3 linked regions of the Homo sapiens genome follow. The protein of the gene in region 2 interacts with the protein of the main gene of each other region in a pairwise test. Each region holds a gene or a part of one and is shown on either strand. Other genes may lie near its edges.

What was found.
Region 1: the proteins of SH3GLB1 (region 2) and MRI1 interact in binary tests that used the Homo sapiens proteins (3 or more experiments, as listed by UniProt).
Region 3: the proteins of SH3GLB1 (region 2) and JPT1 interact in binary tests that used the Homo sapiens proteins (3 or more experiments, as listed by UniProt).

The regions. Positions count from the first base shown.
Region 1 is NC_000019.10:13,767,375-13,771,124, forward strand, and holds part of MRI1 (methylthioribose-1-phosphate isomerase), read left to right. Parts: intron 1-984; coding exon of another isoform or gene 985-1,073; exon of another isoform or gene 1,074-1,186; coding exon 1,187-1,363; intron 1,364-1,449; coding exon 1,450-1,674; intron 1,675-2,203; coding exon of another isoform or gene 2,204-2,223; exon of another isoform or gene 2,224-3,750.
Region 2 is NC_000001.11:86,735,542-86,739,291, forward strand, and holds part of SH3GLB1 (endophilin-B1), read left to right. Parts: intron 1-3,750. UniProt on the Homo sapiens protein: May be required for normal outer mitochondrial membrane dynamics. Required for coatomer-mediated retrograde transport in certain cells. May recruit other proteins to membranes with high curvature. May promote membrane fusion.
Region 3 is NC_000017.11:75,152,803-75,156,552, reverse strand, and holds the start of JPT1 (jupiter microtubule associated homolog 1), read left to right. Parts: upstream 1-2,040; 5' UTR 2,041-2,155; coding exon 2,156-2,211; intron 2,212-2,309; exon of another isoform or gene 2,310-3,648; intron 3,649-3,750. UniProt on the Homo sapiens protein: Modulates negatively AKT-mediated GSK3B signaling.

The sequences.
Region 1 (3,750 bases), on a different chromosome or scaffold from region 2:
TTGCATATCATAGCTAGTCCCATGTAAATACTATGTAAATTGTTGTTACTGGCTAGGTGTAGTGGCGGTGCAGGCCTGTAATCAGGAGGCTGGGGTGGGAGGATTGCTTGAACTCAGAAGTTCTAGACCAGCCTTTGCAACACAGCAAGACCCTGTCTCTATTTTTAAGCCTGTAATGCCAGCACTTCGGGAGGCCAAGGTGGGCGGATCGCTTGAGCTCAGGGGTTCAAAACCAGCCTGGGCTTCATGGCAAAACCCCATCTCTACAAAAAATACTAAAATTAGCTGGGTGTAGTGGTATGCACCTGTGGTCCCACCTATTCGGGAGGGGACTGAGATGGGAGGATTGCTTTTTATTTATTTATTTATTTTGGAGACAGAGTCTTGCTCTGTCACCCAGGCTGGAGTGCCATGGCACGACCTTGGCTCCTTGCAACCTCTGCCTCCTGGGTTCCAGCGATTCTTTTCAAGTATTTTCTTTCTTTCCTTTTTTTTTTTTTTTTTTTTTTTTTGAGACAGAGTCTTGCACTGTTGCCCAGGCTGGAGTGCAGTGGCGCAGTCTCGGCTCACTGCAAGCTCCGCCTCCCAGGTTCACGCCATTCTCCTGCCTCCGCCTCTCGAGTAGCTGGGACTACAGGTGCCCGCCACCACGCCCGGCTAATTTTTTGAACTTTTAGTAGAGATGGGGTTTCACCGTGTTAGCCAGGATGGTCTCGATCTCCTGACCTCGTGATCCATCTGCCTAGGCCTCCCAAAGTGCTGGGATTACAGGCGTGAGCCACCACGCCCAGCCCAAATATTTTCAATCCACATGGTTGAGTCCATGGATGGAGAACCCATAGAAAAGGGGGGCTGCCTGTACACATGAGGTGTTAGAAGGTGATAAATGCTAAGGACAGAGAGCAGGAAACTGAAAGTGTGGGGATTGCTATGCAAAACTGATATATCAGGGAAGGCTTCACCGAGAAGGTGTCCTTTAAACAGACGTGAAACGGAGCTATGCGAGCATTGGGAAGAGCATACCAGGCAGAGGGAACTGCCACTGCGAGGGCCCCTGGGCGGGACTGTGCTCGGTAAGCCTTTGGCAATCCACGCCCAGACTAGGAGCCTGCACCCCTAACCAATGGACCACCCTGTCTGTTTGCCCCTCCCCGGGGCCTTCTCCTGGTGGGTGGGGCCCCCGCAGGTGTGATTCGCTCACTGCACAGCCTGGGCCGCCTGGAGCATGCCTTCTGCACAGAGACCCGGCCCTACAACCAGGGAGCCCGGCTGACGGCCTTTGAGCTGGTCTATGAGCAGATCCCCGCCACCCTTATCACCGACAGCATGGTGGCTGCTGCCATGGCCCATAGGGGCGTGTCAGGTAAGCAGACGGTAAGCCCTGGGGGCGGGGCTCTGGAGCATGGGGCCAGGTAATGACCCCCAACTTCTCATACGCCCCCTCCCCAGCTGTGGTCGTGGGAGCTGACCGCGTGGTTGCCAACGGCGACACAGCCAACAAGGTGGGCACCTACCAGCTGGCCATTGTCGCCAAGCACCATGGCATTCCCTTCTACGTGGCTGCCCCCAGCTCTTCATGTGACCTCCGTCTGGAGACCGGCAAGGAGATCATTATTGAAGAGCGACCGGGCCAGGAGCTGACCGATGTTAATGGGGTCCGGATTGCAGCACCTGGTAAGCTGCCCCCTCAGAAAGGGGACACCCCAGCTCCTGGGCACTTCATGGAGGCAGGTGATATGCAGGTCCTTGTCATCCTTCTGGAACATACACAGCTCCTACAAGCCACTTTTTCTTTTTTCTTTTTTTTGAGATGGAGTCTTGCTCTGTCCCTCAGGCTAGAGTGCAGTGGCACGATCTGGGCTCCCTGCAACCTCCACCTCCCGGGCTCAAGCAGTTCTCCTGCCTCAGCCCCCCAAGTAGCTGGGACTATAGGTGGGTGCCACCACGCCTGGCTAATTTTTGTATTTTTAGTAGAGATGAGGTTTCAACATGTGGACCAGGCTATTTATTAACTACTGACCTCAAGCAATCAGCCTGCCTCTGCCTCCCAAAGCGCTAGGATTACAGGTGTGAGCCACAGCACGCCTGGCCCAAGCCACTTCTTCTAACAGGTGCATCCTGGAGGTCAGATCCAATGTTGGAATTTACAACTAACCGGTTATATGAATGATCTTGAGTAACTGTCTTGCTATTCTCCACTTAGGTTTTCTTAAGAGGAAATAAGAATATCTGGCTGGCCACGTGTTTGTAAAGAAAAACCAAGACGGCCAGGCGAGGTGGCTCACACCTGTAATCCCAGCACTTTGGGAGGCCGAGGCGGGCAGATCACAAGGTCAGGAGTTCGAGACCAGCCTGGTCAACATAGTGAAACCCCGTCTCTACTAAAAATACAAAAATTAGCCGGACATGGTGGCACCCGCCTGTAGTCCCAACTACTCAGGAGGCTGAGGGAGGAGAATCACTTGAACCTGAGAGGCGGAGGTTGTGGTGAGCTGAGATTACACCATTGCACTCCAGCCTGGGCAACAGAGTGAGATTCTGTCTCAAAAAAAAAAAAGAAAAGAAAAAGCAAGATATTTCTACACTTATTTTTATTTGTTTATTTTCATAGAGATAGGGTCTCGCTATGTTCCCCAGGCTGGTCTCAAACTCCTGGCCTCAAGCGATCCTCCTGCCTCAGCCTCCCAAAGCACTGAGATTACAGGTGTGAGCTCCCATGCCTAGCTGCAAGACTTTTCTTAGCTGCCTATACTTCCTGGCTGTGCAACCGTTAGCAAGTTCCCTAAATTCTCTAATTCCCTAAGATCCTCACTGGTCCTATCTGTAAAATGGGCTATGGCTAGAACCTGCTGCATAAACCCAAGGGCGGTCAGTGAATTAACCCACAGGACATTTAGATCAATGACTGGCCCTTTAAATAGTTCATGCACTCAGATGCCGTGGCTCACGCCTATAATCCCAACACTTTGGGAGGCGGAGGTGGGCGGATCACTTGAGGTCAGGCGTTCCAGACCAGCCTAGCCAACAGAGCGAAACCACGTCTCTACTAAAAAAATATAAAAATTAGCCAGGCGTGGTGGCACATGCCTGTAGTCCCATCTACTTGGGAAGCTGAGGCATGAGAATTGCTTGAACCTAGGACGCAGAGGTTGCAGTAAGTTGAGACTGCACCACTGCACTCCAGTCTGGGTGACAGAGCGAAACTCCATCTCAAAAATAAAAAAAAAGGCCGAGCGCTGTGGCTCACGCCTGTAATCCCAGCACTTTGGGAAGCCGAGGCGGGCGGATCACCTGAGGTCGGGAGTTCAAGACCAGCCTGACCAACATGGAGAAACCCTGCCTCTACTAAAAATACAAAATTAGCCGGGCGTGGTGGCACATGCCTGTAACCCCAGCTACTCAGGAGGCTGAGGCAGGAGAATTGCTTGAACCCGGGAGGCGGAGGTTGCAATGAGCCAAGATAGCGCCACAGCACTCCAGCCTGGGCAACAAGAGTGAAACTCCATCTCAAAGAAAAAAAAGAAAAAACAGTTCATGAAATATTAGCATGAACCAATATTAGCATTATGGGGCCAGGTAAAATGGCTCACACCTGAAATCCCAGTATTTTGGGAGGCTGAGGTGGGAGGATCACTTGAGCTCAGGAGTTCAAGACCAGCCTGGGCAACATTGCCAGACCACAATCTCTAAAAAAATTGTTTTGCCAGGTGTGGTGGTTCATGATTGTAACCCCAGCACTTTGGGAGGCTG
Region 2 (3,750 bases):
TCTGTTTACTATATTGAAAAAAAGTTTTAGAATATTTCGTAAGACCTCATATCTACCGATGTGATTATTTTGAGTATGTTAATATACTTCAAAGCAAAATGACAGTATGTAAAACACAAAGCTCAATCACTCATTCATCACGTATTTATTGACTATCTGCCATGTGCCAAGCACTGTTACATATTGTGGGGTAATATCAGCAAACAAAACAGGCAAAGATGCTTGCCTTTATGGAGCTCACATTATAAGGTGACACTGAAAATAAAATAATGTTTAGGGCAAACATGGTCTCTGCTCTCACAACACTTAGCCTAGGTAGAAATACAAAGCAAGCCGTTGGTAGACAGGCCATGTGGTAGGCAGAAAAGCAGAAGGTGCCTGGTATTGTGAAGGCATCTAACTGTGACTGAGGTACATCTAGCAGAGTTTCCCAGGTGAAGTTATCTTGGTAGGAATAATCTAGATGAAGAAAGGGACAGGGATGAATATTCTAAGCAAGGAAGAATATGTTTATAAAAAAGCCAGAAGAAAGAGAGTAGGGAAAGTTCGGGGAACTGATAGTAGTCCATTCAGGCTGGAGCATAGTGTTCAAGAATGGAATGGTAGATGAATCTAGAGGAGTTAAGCAGGGTCATACCATGAATGGCTTTTAAAGTAAGTTGTTGTAAGGAGTTTGGAATTTATATATTGAGGAACCATTAAAGCAGGGGAGCGATATGTAGCATTTGAAGGATGAATATCAAAAAATCGTTTCAAGGAATAAGGTAAATAAAGTCACTTTGGTGTTTGTTTCTGCACATTAACACTTCAAAACTTGGCCTAGAATAAAATTGAGCACGTCCATGAAACCAATTTTGAACCTCAAAAATGAATGGTAGCCTAATCATTAGTTATTTTAATAGAATATACAGGAGCATTTACATAACTATATATTTGAGGTTTTATTAGTGGTGTTAATATCTCAAGGCAGAACAGCACTTTATCTTCACATCATTATAACTATTTTAAGCCCAAGAAGCCTTAGTACTTTTTTCCACTTTATCCTGAAACTCTGGAAGTGCGGCATAGGGGTTGCTTATACTCGCATTCTACTTAAAGCCACACTATGCTTAGGACTTGGCCATTTAAACAAAATCCAGTTGTTGCGTTATTACTGCTCTTTGAGATAAGCTCCAGCAATACAAAGTAAAACCAGTGCTACTATTCTAGAAAAGAAAGTCTAGCTTGTCTCTCCACCCTCAATTATATTATTGCTAATGACCAATGACATTGGAGGAAGTTTTATCTCTTTAATTTGTTGCAGGTTATGCTTTTTAAGATAATACATAGAAATATTCAAATATAGAACTTGACAAATCATCCAGCTTCACACTAACACATTCAAAAACTATTTATGAAGAAGAGAACCAGATTGTATTGTTAATAGTTGCAATAACAGTACCAACAGGTAGTAGAAGTAACTGAATAACAGCCATCACTTTGGTTGAGCTTAAGTTGTGCATAGGTGCTCTTCCAGACACCTCATGTGTATTATTAACTTTATAATCCTCACCACCAAATGAGGTAGGTACTATTATTATCCATATTTTAAAGATGAGAAAGCAGAAGTACTAGTCACAAGATTAGCAATTTTTTTAATAATTGGAAGGCTTTTGCATTTCAAGCTCCAGTGGCTTAATTGACATTTTTATAGAATGAGTAATTGCTATGATTTTTTAACGTATCAATAAAAGTTCTTAGAAGGTAAAAATGGCCTTTCAGTTCATTTTTTAAATCTTTAACTCTGCAAAATTGACATAGGTACACTTCAGTGGCTAATCAAAGGCTAAAATCATACTAGTAGATTTGGAAGTAAAATATGGTTAGAGAACTAAAAAAGCCATGTGTATATACATATTCATATAAATAGAGCTTTTTCTTATCTTCAGAAATGTATGTATTTAATCCCTACTGAAGAACCGAGTTCACTGAGGAAAGGATACTAGGACAGGTGGTCTTAATTTTAGAGAGGAAAAGCTATATTTAAAACTATTTCACCCTTTATCCATCAGAGAAACATTTGCTTTTCATTTTTAAAATGTACTGTTCCAGATGTGGGGGATATAGTATATAAATAAAATAATCAAAATTCCTGCCTTCCTGGAATCTACATTCTATATGGGGGCAGAAGGGAGCAGAAAAGCAATATGTATATAAATTATATAGTATATTAGAAGGTGAAAATGGTGTACCGGAAAATATAGCAGGAAACTACTTTGATGGGAGTAGAGAAAGACGTGAGAAAGCACACATGCAGGCATCTGAGAGAAGATGCTCCAGGTAGAGGGTGCAGCAAGTACAAAAACCCTGAGGGCATGACATAGCTGGTATGGTCAAGGAACAGCAAGGAGGGCTTGGCTAGAGACGAGTAGAGGAAACGGGGAGCCAAAACATATAGGGCTTCGACTTTGGTCTTTACTCAGAGATGAGGCGCCTTTGGAAATTTTGAGCTGAAGAGTGACATAATTTTAGGCTTTAACAGAATCATTCTGGCTGCCACGTTGAGGATAGGTGTTGGGTGGAAGCTGACTGATCTGTTTCAAACTTATTGCAATAATGTAGTCAGTAATTCAGTCAGAAGATGGCAGTGGCTTGGATCAGGGTAATTGTGGTAGGTAGGATGGAAGTGGTCAGGTCCTGTGGGCCTGTGGGTGTTGTTTGTTTTTTGTTTGTTTGTTTTGTTTTGTTTTGTTTTGTTTTTTTGAGACAGAGTCTTGCTCTGTTGCCCAGGCTGGAGTGCAGTGGCGCAATCTCGGCTCACTGCAAGCTCCTCCATCTGGGTTTATGCCATTCTCCTGCCTCAGCCACCCGAGTAGCGGGGACTACAGGCACCCACCACCACACCCAGCTAATTTTTTGTATTTTTAGTAGAGACAGGGTTTCACCGTGTTAGCCAGGATGGTCTCGATCTCCTGACCTTGTGATCTGCCCGCCTCGGCCTCCCAAAGTGCTGGGATTACAGGCGTGACTGTGGGTGTATTTTAGACTTAAAGCCAGAAGGATTTGCTTGACAGACTGTATGTATATTGGACACAAAGAGGTCAAGAATTATTGCAAGGTTTTGTTTTGTTTTGTTTTAGAGACAGAGTTTCACTCTTCCAGTCCAAGGTGGAGTACAATGGCGCAACTTCGGCTCACTGCAACCTCTGCCTCCCGGGTTCAAGAGATTCTCCTGCCTCAGCCTCCCAAGTAGCTAGGATTACAGGTGTGCGCCACCATGCCCAGCTAATTTTTTGCATTTTTAGTAGAAAAGGGGTTTCACCATGTTAGCCAGGCTGGTCTTGAACTCCTGGCCTCAGGCTATCTGCCCGCCTCAGCCTCTCAAAGTGCTGGGATTATAGGCGTGAGCCACCACGTCCATCTGCAAGTTTTTGACCTAAGTAACTGAAAGAATGGGGAGTTGTAGATAGTTAAAATGGGGAATGCCAGAGGAGGCAAAGATTTCAGGGATGGAGGTCTGGGAAGTATGTCAGTTATATTAGAAGCCCAGTTTTAAATATGTTAAGTTTGAGATGTCTCTTAAACATTTAAGTGGAGGTATCCAATTTTAGGATATGCAGGTCTGGACTTGGATTGGGGGCAGGGTGAATTAGATAATTAGAGAGTTGTCAGCATATCAAAGATATTTAAATCTGTGAGACTAGATAAACCCTCAAAGGAGTAAGTATAGAGAAAAGGAGAGGATCAAGGACTGATCCCTGAAGTACTCTA
Region 3 (3,750 bases), on a different chromosome or scaffold from region 2:
GGTCAGGAGATCTAGACCATCCTGGCTAACACGGTGAAACCCCATCTCTACTAAAAATACAAAAATTAGCCAGGCATGGTGGTGGGCGCCTGTAGTCCCAGCTACTTGGGAGGCTGAGGCAGGAGAATGGCGTGAACCCGGGAGGCGGAGCTTGCAGTGAACCGAGATTATGCCACCGCACTCCAGCCTGGGCGACAGAGCGAGACTCTGTCTCAAAAAAACGAAAACAACAACAACAAAAAAAGAAAGAATGGGAAGATTGGCTGGGCGTGCGGTGGTTCACACCTGTAATCCCAGCACTTTGGGAAGCCAAGGTGGGTGGATCACGAGGTCAGGAGATTGAGACCATGCTGGCTAACATGGTGAAACTCCATCTCTACTAATAAACTACAAAAAATTAGCCGGGCATGATGGCACGCACCTGTAGTCCTAGCTACTCGGGAGGCTGAGGCAGGAGAATCGCTTGAACCCGGGAGGTGGAGGCTGCAAGTGAGCAGAGATCGCGCCACCACTGCACTCCAGCCTGGGCGACAGAGCAAGACTCTGTCTCAAAAAAAAAAAAAAAAAGCTAAGATTTTGGCTAGATGCGGTGGCTTACACCTGTAATCCCAGCACTTTGGGAGGCCAAGGAGCATGGATCACCTGAGGTCAGGAGTTTGAGACCAGCCTGGCCAATATGGTGAAACGCCGTCTCTACTAAAAATACAAAAATTAGTCAGGGGTGGTGGCGCACGCCTGTAGTTCCAGCTATTACGGAGGCTGAGGCAGGAGAATCGCTTGAACCTGGGAGGTGGAGGTTGCATTGAGCGCCATTGCACTCTAGCCTGGGTGACAAGAGCGAAACTCCACTTCAAAAACAAAAAAAAAAAAGAAAGGAAAAAAAGAAGGGAAGATTCTAACACAAACAAGTGGTGCGCTTCGTGCTGTTGTGGTAAGCACATAAATGCATCATCCGTGCTTTCTAGAACAGAACTTCTCACTGGCTTTTCATGAAAGCCCGGGGGGGGAGGGTGGTTAACCTAGACTGCCCAGAATACAAACTTCCAACTACCTGAAAGGTGGCTTTGCAAAGAGGAATGTGGTTCAATTATTATGGAAATATTGAGACAAGCAAAGACATCTGCCTTGAGGAAATATGCAAGACATGAGAAGGGCCTGCCCTCTTTTGCCCAAGGCTTTCCTATTATGATCTTGTAAACCATCATTCCTGAATCCTCCAAGTGTGTCTGCATTTGTCGCATGGATAGATTTACCCAGACAGGTGGAAGAGTCATGACTTAAGGGTTATAAACAGCTGCAGAGGCCTGAGCTGCTTCCATAGTCTTGGTAGCAGGGAATGAGTCCATTCCTGGTGCCAGGCATTAACCAGCCTTAGAATAGGCCCCCAAATAGGAGCGACTGTAATTTTGGTCCAGTACATGCACCACCCATTACAACTAAACAGTAACATTAAAATGTAAGGAATTTCCAGTCCTTTTAAAAGGGATCATCTTGGTGCGCTCTCTGTTGCTGACTCATTGTGCGGCTGCTTTGAGACTATTAGGTTTCTAAATGGGACACACAGTAGGTATTCAACAGATAAATGTCAACTTGTTGCAGTACTTTTCATCCTTTAAGGAGGATGCCCTTACTATCCCACCATCAGTAAAGCAAATGAGAGAACAGTAACAGTGACAAATCTCCCTTCTGCTTGCCGAGGTTGTAACTCCCCAAGAAAGAGCTTCCCCCTCTGTCAGGTAACGTTTTACAGTGACAGCCAGCACGACTTCCACCCAGCGCGAGGTAGATTCGCCTTCCGTCCAATCATCGCCGAGATTTTGGGGTGGGGGAGGGGAGAGAGTCCCAAGGCCTTCCCAGTCCAGGAAGGGGGCGGGCTTAGGCTGAGCCGTGGCCGCCACAGCCCATCGTAATGCCGCATGGTGCTTGGCACTCCAGAGAGCCAATAGGAATGAAAGAATTCATTTGAATCGGCCAATGCCGGCGGGTTAGGGGGCGGGGGTTGAAAACCCTATAAAGGCGTCGATCGGCCGGACAGGCGGCAGCGGCGGCTCCTGCAGCGGTGGTCGGCTGTTGGGTGTGGAGTTTCCCAGCGCCCCTCGGGTCCGACCCTTTGAGCGTTCTGCTCCGGCGCCAGCCTACCTCGCTCCTCGGCGCCATGACCACAACCACCACCTTCAAGGGAGTCGACCCCAACAGCAGGAATAGCTCCCGGTGAGGCGACCGGGTCGCGCCCGAGCCGCGCGGGGCTGAGGGGCTGGGAGGGCCGCTGCCGGCGGGGCCTCGCGCCGGTCGTTGCGGGTAACGAGCCCCGTGCGCTGTGCTCGCGCCGGGGCGGGTGGCGGGGTTCTGCCGTCGGCGCCGCCTTTGTGCCGCCTGGCGAGCCCTGCGCGCCGGCCCCACCCGGGTCCCTGCTGCTCTCCATTCATTCCTTCCACGGAGTCAGGGGCTGAGGAGGCCGGGGCTGGTCGCCCCTCGGAGCACGGCCGGTTTTCGTTAATCGGAACCTTCGGGGAGGGCTTCGCTTTCTCCTGTGTGCATCCCGGCTGGTGCATCCCCAGGGTGGTGGGCTTGGCCCCCCAGGTGCCCGGGGATCCTTTAGGGCCCCATGCATGGTCAGGTCCTATTGTCCCATTGATGGGCCACGCGCTCCTGTCTCTCCCCCGTGGCATGCGGTTGGTCTCGCTCTCGCGCGCAGCCATTGGATCCGGAGACCGGATCGATCAGGTCCGGCGGGCTCCTTACCCTCGCCGTGCCCCCACTCCTTATTCGGACCTACCTGACAGGTGCATGTGTGGTCGAGCGGGGCTGGTCATCGCGACCCTTCACCCCCCATTGAGGACCCAATCGTTCTTCCCCTCTTCGAAGTGCCTCCCCTCTTCCAAGTGTCTCCCCTTCCTAACAAAGGAAAGACCCCTTCTCCCCATCCCTGCGCTCATTTCTAAGGCGGGGGGCGGGGGCGGGCGCGGGGAACGAGCCAACCCGAGTGGGTTTTCTGCGCTTAAACCTTCGGACCGTGGCCTTTGCATCCTACCTTCGCTTCCTCCTTTGACGTTTGCCCAGTGAGTTCATCCCTGGCCCTGGTTCCCTTGCAGGAGGAGGTTTCTTGTTCTTGGGCGGGGCCGGAGACATCCATTGTCTCTAACGTGGTAGCGCTACCTGGGAAGCGGGGGATTTTTCTTGCCCTTCTTCCCACTGCTTTTTGGGCTTGGGGCACTGGGTACAGTGTTTGGACAGGAACCCTTTTCCAAGTCCTTGCTTAACTTACTTGGTGGAAGGGTTTGGATTCTGTGGAAGGTGTCCACATTGTCTCAGCTAATTGCACACTGTTCTTTAAGGTGGGTTACAGTTATGTCTGGGATCCTCTTCAAGGCTTGGAAGAAGCTTAAATCACTTTTTTGAGCATGTATTTTACATCGATTATGACCTGCATTCATGTGTGGCTACCCTCGGGGTCCTGGCCAAGTGGCACAAAGGGAGCCATTTTGTGGGGCTAAGAAGACACGTGAAATAGCCATATCTCACAGGGGTTAGAGAACTTGGGAACAAAAAGCACGCCTCACTCAGCAATTGAGCCTTAGGAGGAAAGCATGGGAAATGACATTCCTTTACAACTCAATACTTTCAGGTTTACAAGGTCAAAAAGACTAGGTAAGATTAAAAAAATAAATTGGTGATTACTGGGAGGATGGGGTACTTAAGTAGCACAGACCTAGGAAACTGGTCGCTCCCTTTCTGTTTTCTTTCCAATGA